Regions from separate parts of the Homo sapiens genome. Here region 2 is linked to region 1. The links come from fine-mapping of genetic effects on gene expression. Tissue or cell type: prefrontal cortex. Region 1 holds a variant in brackets; the other region holds the start of a gene. All regions are shown on one strand. Distances are between the middles of the regions.

Evidence for each region. PIP is the estimated chance that this variant, and not a neighbour inherited with it, causes the effect.
Region 2: TRAF1 starts here. The variant in region 1 is fine-mapped to the expression of TRAF1 in prefrontal cortex (GTEx, PIP above 0.99).

The regions. Positions count from the first base shown.
Region 1 is chr9:121,208,057-121,210,815 of GRCh38, forward strand. It overlaps a transcript of GSN not described here. Among named protein-coding and RNA genes, the nearest start is that of RAB14, 7.6 kb to the left of the region's middle. The variant G/A (reference allele first, on the strand shown) is at 1,585.
Region 2 is chr9:120,925,504-120,928,117 of GRCh38, forward strand. TRAF1 (TNF receptor associated factor 1) reads right to left here and starts at 1,293. Exons shown (of 8, transcript NM_005658.5): 1 at 1,047-1,293; 2 at 433-798. The coding sequence starts at 572. RefSeq lists enhancers at 1-445, 42-111, 572-911, 1,252-1,571.

The DNA of each region.
Region 1 (2,759 bases):
GATTACAGGCATAAGCCACTGTGCCTGGCCCAAATCACTTAACTTCTCTGAGCCTCAACTATAAAATCAGATAATAGATTTTCCCCTCACCCATACACACACGGAATTGTTGTTCAGATTAACTGGGAAAGTGTAACTGAAAGTATGTGGTACAGTATCTAGAATATTCCACGCATTCAACAAATGCCTGGTCCTTCTCTTCTCTCCTACCTTTATTCACTGATTCCCTCATCCATGTGAATCAGGCACACACTTAGGTTCCTGCCAGAGCCCTGAACCCCTTCCCCAGTTGGAAAGCACTTCTTGAGTACCTGCTTAGAATACATGGGTTCAGATGCTGCAAACAAGAGACTAAAGAATGATAGTGGCTTTCACAAGATAGAAATGTATTCTTCCCGCACATGGAAGTCTGGGTAAGTAGTACAGAGGTGATATAGCAGCTTGAAGGCAGCAAGATGTAAGTTCCTCCTTGGTTATGGCACTGCCACCCCCAAATCATGCTTCTATATCATGGCTCAAAATACTTACTCCAGCTAACACCAGGAGAGGGGAGAAAAAGAAGTAGATAGCACATGCCTTCCTGTTAAGTGTATGACCCAGAAGTTGTACCTATTGCTTTTGCTGACATCCCATTGGTAGGTCACATGGTCACACCTAGCTGAAAGGGATGCAGAGAAATTTAGTCTTTGTTCTGGGGAGGATTATTACTAATGAGGGAAGAAAAGAATGGATACTGAGAAACAACCAGCTATTTTTGCCATACCATCCTTCATTGCCTAAAAGGGGGGCAGGTGTTAGAGCACCTTGAAGGTCCAGGGAGGCTGATGTTAAACCCTGAGGCCACCAAGGTGAGGACAGGGACCATCAGTGGACCATGAAATCTTTCCCACCAGTGCAGTTCCCTTAGGATGCCCATTTGGGGCTCTATGCAGGACTCTGAATAAATAGCATTCCTTTGCCTCGTCTGACTTCTGAACAAGTTGAGATATCAACAAAAAGATGCAGAGGAAGGCCAGAATATTTTCTTTATTAGTGATATTGCCAGGTTGGAGAAGAAACTTTTAGGGTTGGTAGCTGAAGGGTGCCACTAATAGTGAACCCCAGAAGTGGGCTGCAAAGACTAGGGCAGGCCTCCTGCTGAAGGGAGCAGGGCTGAGGAGCAGCTCCCTCCCTATCAGAAGAAGTGCTGAGTTGGGCATGACCAGGTATTCTCAAATGTACAATCCTTCATCCTTCCAGGAATGGATAAAGCACGGAGAGGAACCAAGAATGTGCTCAGAAAAAAATCCTTCCTCACTGAAACCAGGACTAAGGAAAGGAGATTCCCTTCTACCATCCATGGTGAGCAAAGAGTGGGGCTTGGAATTAGCAGCGGGGGGTGGGGAGGGGGGAAGAAATACCAGTGGAAGCAAGCATAATAGTGCCTACAAATACATGAGGGACCCAAACTGACAAGTCAGAAATCATCCAACACTGTAATTGGATTTCAGTCCCAGCCTTGCTTCTTAGTAGCTGTGTGGCTTTGGAAAGTTCCTTAAGGTCTCTAATTCTTCATTTCCTTGTCTCAAAAATCAGGAAACAGCA[G/A]CATTTAATACCTATGTGAATTATTAAGAGAAAATGAAGCAGAGCATGAGAAGCTCTTAGCATAGTGCCTGGTAGGGAATAAACACTCAGGAAACAGAAGCTGCTAGAATTATTTCCAAGAGCCAATACATAGCTCCTGAAAGCAGTTTCCCCAAGTAAGTTAGGAAAGAAGAAAACCTTTATCTGCTATCATAGAATTCAACAGAAATCAGAAAGTTTTCTTTAGAGTAATACAAATAATTGGAGAGAAGAGATGAAGAATGAGAAACAGGCCTCTCTGCATAGTATCTGGAACAATTTGGGCTAGGCCTTCACTTTCTCATATTCTTTGTGCCATGAACACACATACACGCACGCATACATGCACAATAGACCAGTCAAGATTCATCTAGAGGTGATATAATAAATCCCTACTCTCAGGAAAGGATATTGCCTTTATAGATATATTAGTTAGGAGAGGCTAGGTTTTACTGTGTAAGAAATGACTCCAAAATCTCAGCGGATTTAAACCTTATCACAAAGGTGTGCTTCTTGCCCACTCTCTATGTCCATAATGTGTCAACTACTTCCCTGTTCCACACCATCTTCACTTTAGGACTCAGGCTGACGGAGCACGCTGCCTGTCTGTGTCTCTCCGTTTCTCTCTCTGGAACGTTGTCAGATGTCACGGCGGAGGGAAAAGAGACCTGGTGAGTGACGTGCTAAGTCTTCAAGCTTCTGCTCCAAAGTAGCACACATCACTTATGCTCAAATTTTCTTAGCCAGAGCAAGTCTTATAGCCTCATATTGATAGAGTTGGGGTGCATAATTCTCCTTTGGGGAGGTGAATATAGCTGAATGTAACCCAGTCTACCACAGTGGACTCCCCAAGAGCCAGAGAGACAGCCACTGAGAGCTGCTAATATCTGGCTGATCTGGGGCCTTCTCTTTGCCTCAGTTTATCCTCTGTGAAATGGAGATACCAGCACCCGTCCTGTGAACCTTACAGAGAAGGGCTAGGAATGCACGTGGGATCACCGACATGCATGTGGTTTGGCAACTGTAAACTACCACACTTGCATGAGAGGGTTTCAATACCAGTATGAGTGCATTGGAAGGGATAAGAACACATTATAAAACATTTCACCCCTTCTCTGCCCACAGGAATGACTTGCCGAATTTTTAGCCCATAACCA
Region 2 (2,614 bases), 280 kb before region 1:
ATTCGTCTAACAGTTTGTCATTCACCAAGAGGTTTATATTTGTTATTATAAGGACTTTTGTGATTATTATTCATTGGGCTTCATTAACAATTCTATGACACAGAAAACAGCTTTACAGACAAGCGAGCTGCGGCTTAGGGACATTAGCAGAGCACCAGACCACACAGTGAGACAGTGGCCTCACAGCCTCGAGGCTCTCCTCGGTGTGGATGGCTTTCCCCTGTGGGAGCTGATGCCTTTCTGTGGCTTCCTCTCCTTCCACCACAGCCAGAGGGGCAGTGTCAGGGAGTGTGAGAAAAGGGTGTGGAAACTGAGGCCCAGAGAAGAAAAGTCACCGCCTGAAGTCACAGGCTCCTCTGCCCCTCACCTCCCATCAGGGGTCCCTCCCTGGCACCCACTTTCTGCCCACCCTCCGCTCCTCCATCACCTCACCTCGGGTTCTCAGAGAGACAGCCTGCACAGCAGAGAGCCCTGGGCTCCTTTGGGTCCTGGCAGACGGTGGGAGGGCACCCAAAGGGAAACTCATTCTCATCAGGGGCCGGGCGAGGACTGCTGCCTGAGCTGGAGGCCATCTCAGGGTTCCAGGCTGGCCAGAGGGCCTGTTTAAGTTGCTCCAGGGCAGGGGACCAGCCTTGTGGAGTCCTGGCCTGGGCCTCACTCTCTGGTGAGTAGGAGCTCTGATGACTTTATCTTCTTCTCTCTGGCTTGTGTGGTTCAACGTCACAGCTGAGTCACAGCAGGGATGGAGCAGGAATTACCCTTTGTGGCGATAAAAATCCCCTGGATGGTGACTGAAGGCTTTAGGAGTGTCCAGTCATTTTTTTTTTTTTTTAGAGTGAGAAAAAGCAAGAGAGCAAGTCAGAGAAAATGACCCGTGTCACAGACTCTCAGAAAGCACAGTGAGAGTTCCCCTGGTTGAGAATCGCAGGCTGCCGCTGGCTTCCCCCACTTCCCTGGGCACATCGGAGGAGGGGGCCACAGCTGGTCCCTGGTCTGTGTTCCCTGGCACCTCTGAGCAGCCTGGAATTCTCAGTGGGGGTGCTCACCTTCCTGGTGGAAATCCCCAGGGTGTTGGAGACAGGTCCAAAATTTCAAGTTCTAGGCGCTTTTGCTCTGCTCTGTTTGGAGTGTCTGGGTGACCTCAAGGAGAAGTCACTTCCTCACAGTGGGTTCTGATGACTCCATCTGTAAAAAAGAAGTTGCAACAGGTGGCCTCTGGGCTGTAAGATTCTGGGACCCTATCTTGCCTGGGACTGAGGCAACCAGAAGGAGCAGGAAAGCCCTGATGAAATCCAAGGCCTAGGACCACAGACTCCTCAGGGCCCTCCCCACACCACCCCACTCAGGAAGTCATAGGTGGCTACATGCTCCGGTCAGGTGCCACCACTTTACTGCCTCAAGGAGAACAAAGCGCTAAACAAATGCAAGATCACAGCAGCTGGTCTCAGCATCCAAGTGGGATGTAGATCCACATTTGCAGGAAAAGTGCACTGGGGAAACGATGGCTCCCAGAATGTGTACTGTGTGCTGGGCAACAGTTTCCCTCCAAATCCTTACAGCAACCTGCAAGGAATTCTTCTGCAGCTGTATATAGGGTCAGAGAAGCAAGATGCCTGGTCCAAAGGCACACAGCCTCTGGTAGTGGAGTGGGATTCACACCAGGGCTGTGGGGCCCCAAGCTCTGTGTGCTTGGGATGGAGATCAGAGTACCCAGCTCTTGTCTCATCTATCAAATGGAGAAGACAATCCCTACACATCTTTCCATCCTGCTTGGCTGCTACAGAGGTTTTGCAAACTTTCACAGTGGTTTCAGATCATGGGTTTTGAGGTCAGACAGAGCTGAGTTGAAATCCTGGGTCCACTGCTTACTAACTGTGGGCCCTGGGACAAAGTCCTTAACTTCCCTGAAACTCAGATTCTGCATCTGTAAAATGGGACAATAATACCTATTTCACCCATTTGTTGTGATGACTAAATGAGATAGTGGGTCAAAGTGTGGTGTGTAACCCAAGTGAAGTACTTGAATGACATTTGGCTCAGATGGTGACTACAGGCCTTCCAGCTCCTCAGAGAAAAGGATTAAAGTGGTGCATTATGCTTATACTGTGCTTTCACGTCTATCTACTGGAGCCTCAACAGGTGGGCAGGGCAGGTCATCTGGCCTGAGATACATTAAACTGCCCACCTGCCCTGGTGTAACACCAGGGCTGCCACAGGCTGGTGGCAAAGACAGCACGGCATCTTACCGCCACAATGTACATCAGGACCTCCACCCCCATAACAAACGACCTCCAGGCCTGCATCAAGACTATCAGAAGACACTCCCTTTTAACTGTGTACCCCATACCTGCAAGCTTTCCTGCAGCCAGCCCTACCTGTTCCCTCCTTCCCCTGGTTTGGGATAAAACAGGCACCCAAGACTTCTCTCCCCATCTGTGGGTCCCTTCTCTCCCCTCCGGCCTCAATACCACCCTCTCTACCTGCTCATTCCCACGGACATCAAAACGTGCGCAACCTGCTCTAATAAGAAAAGGGAAAAATAGTACTACTTTTGGGTACCGTCTTACGTAATTTTACAGACATCATCTCATCTAATTTTCACTCTGTGAAGCAG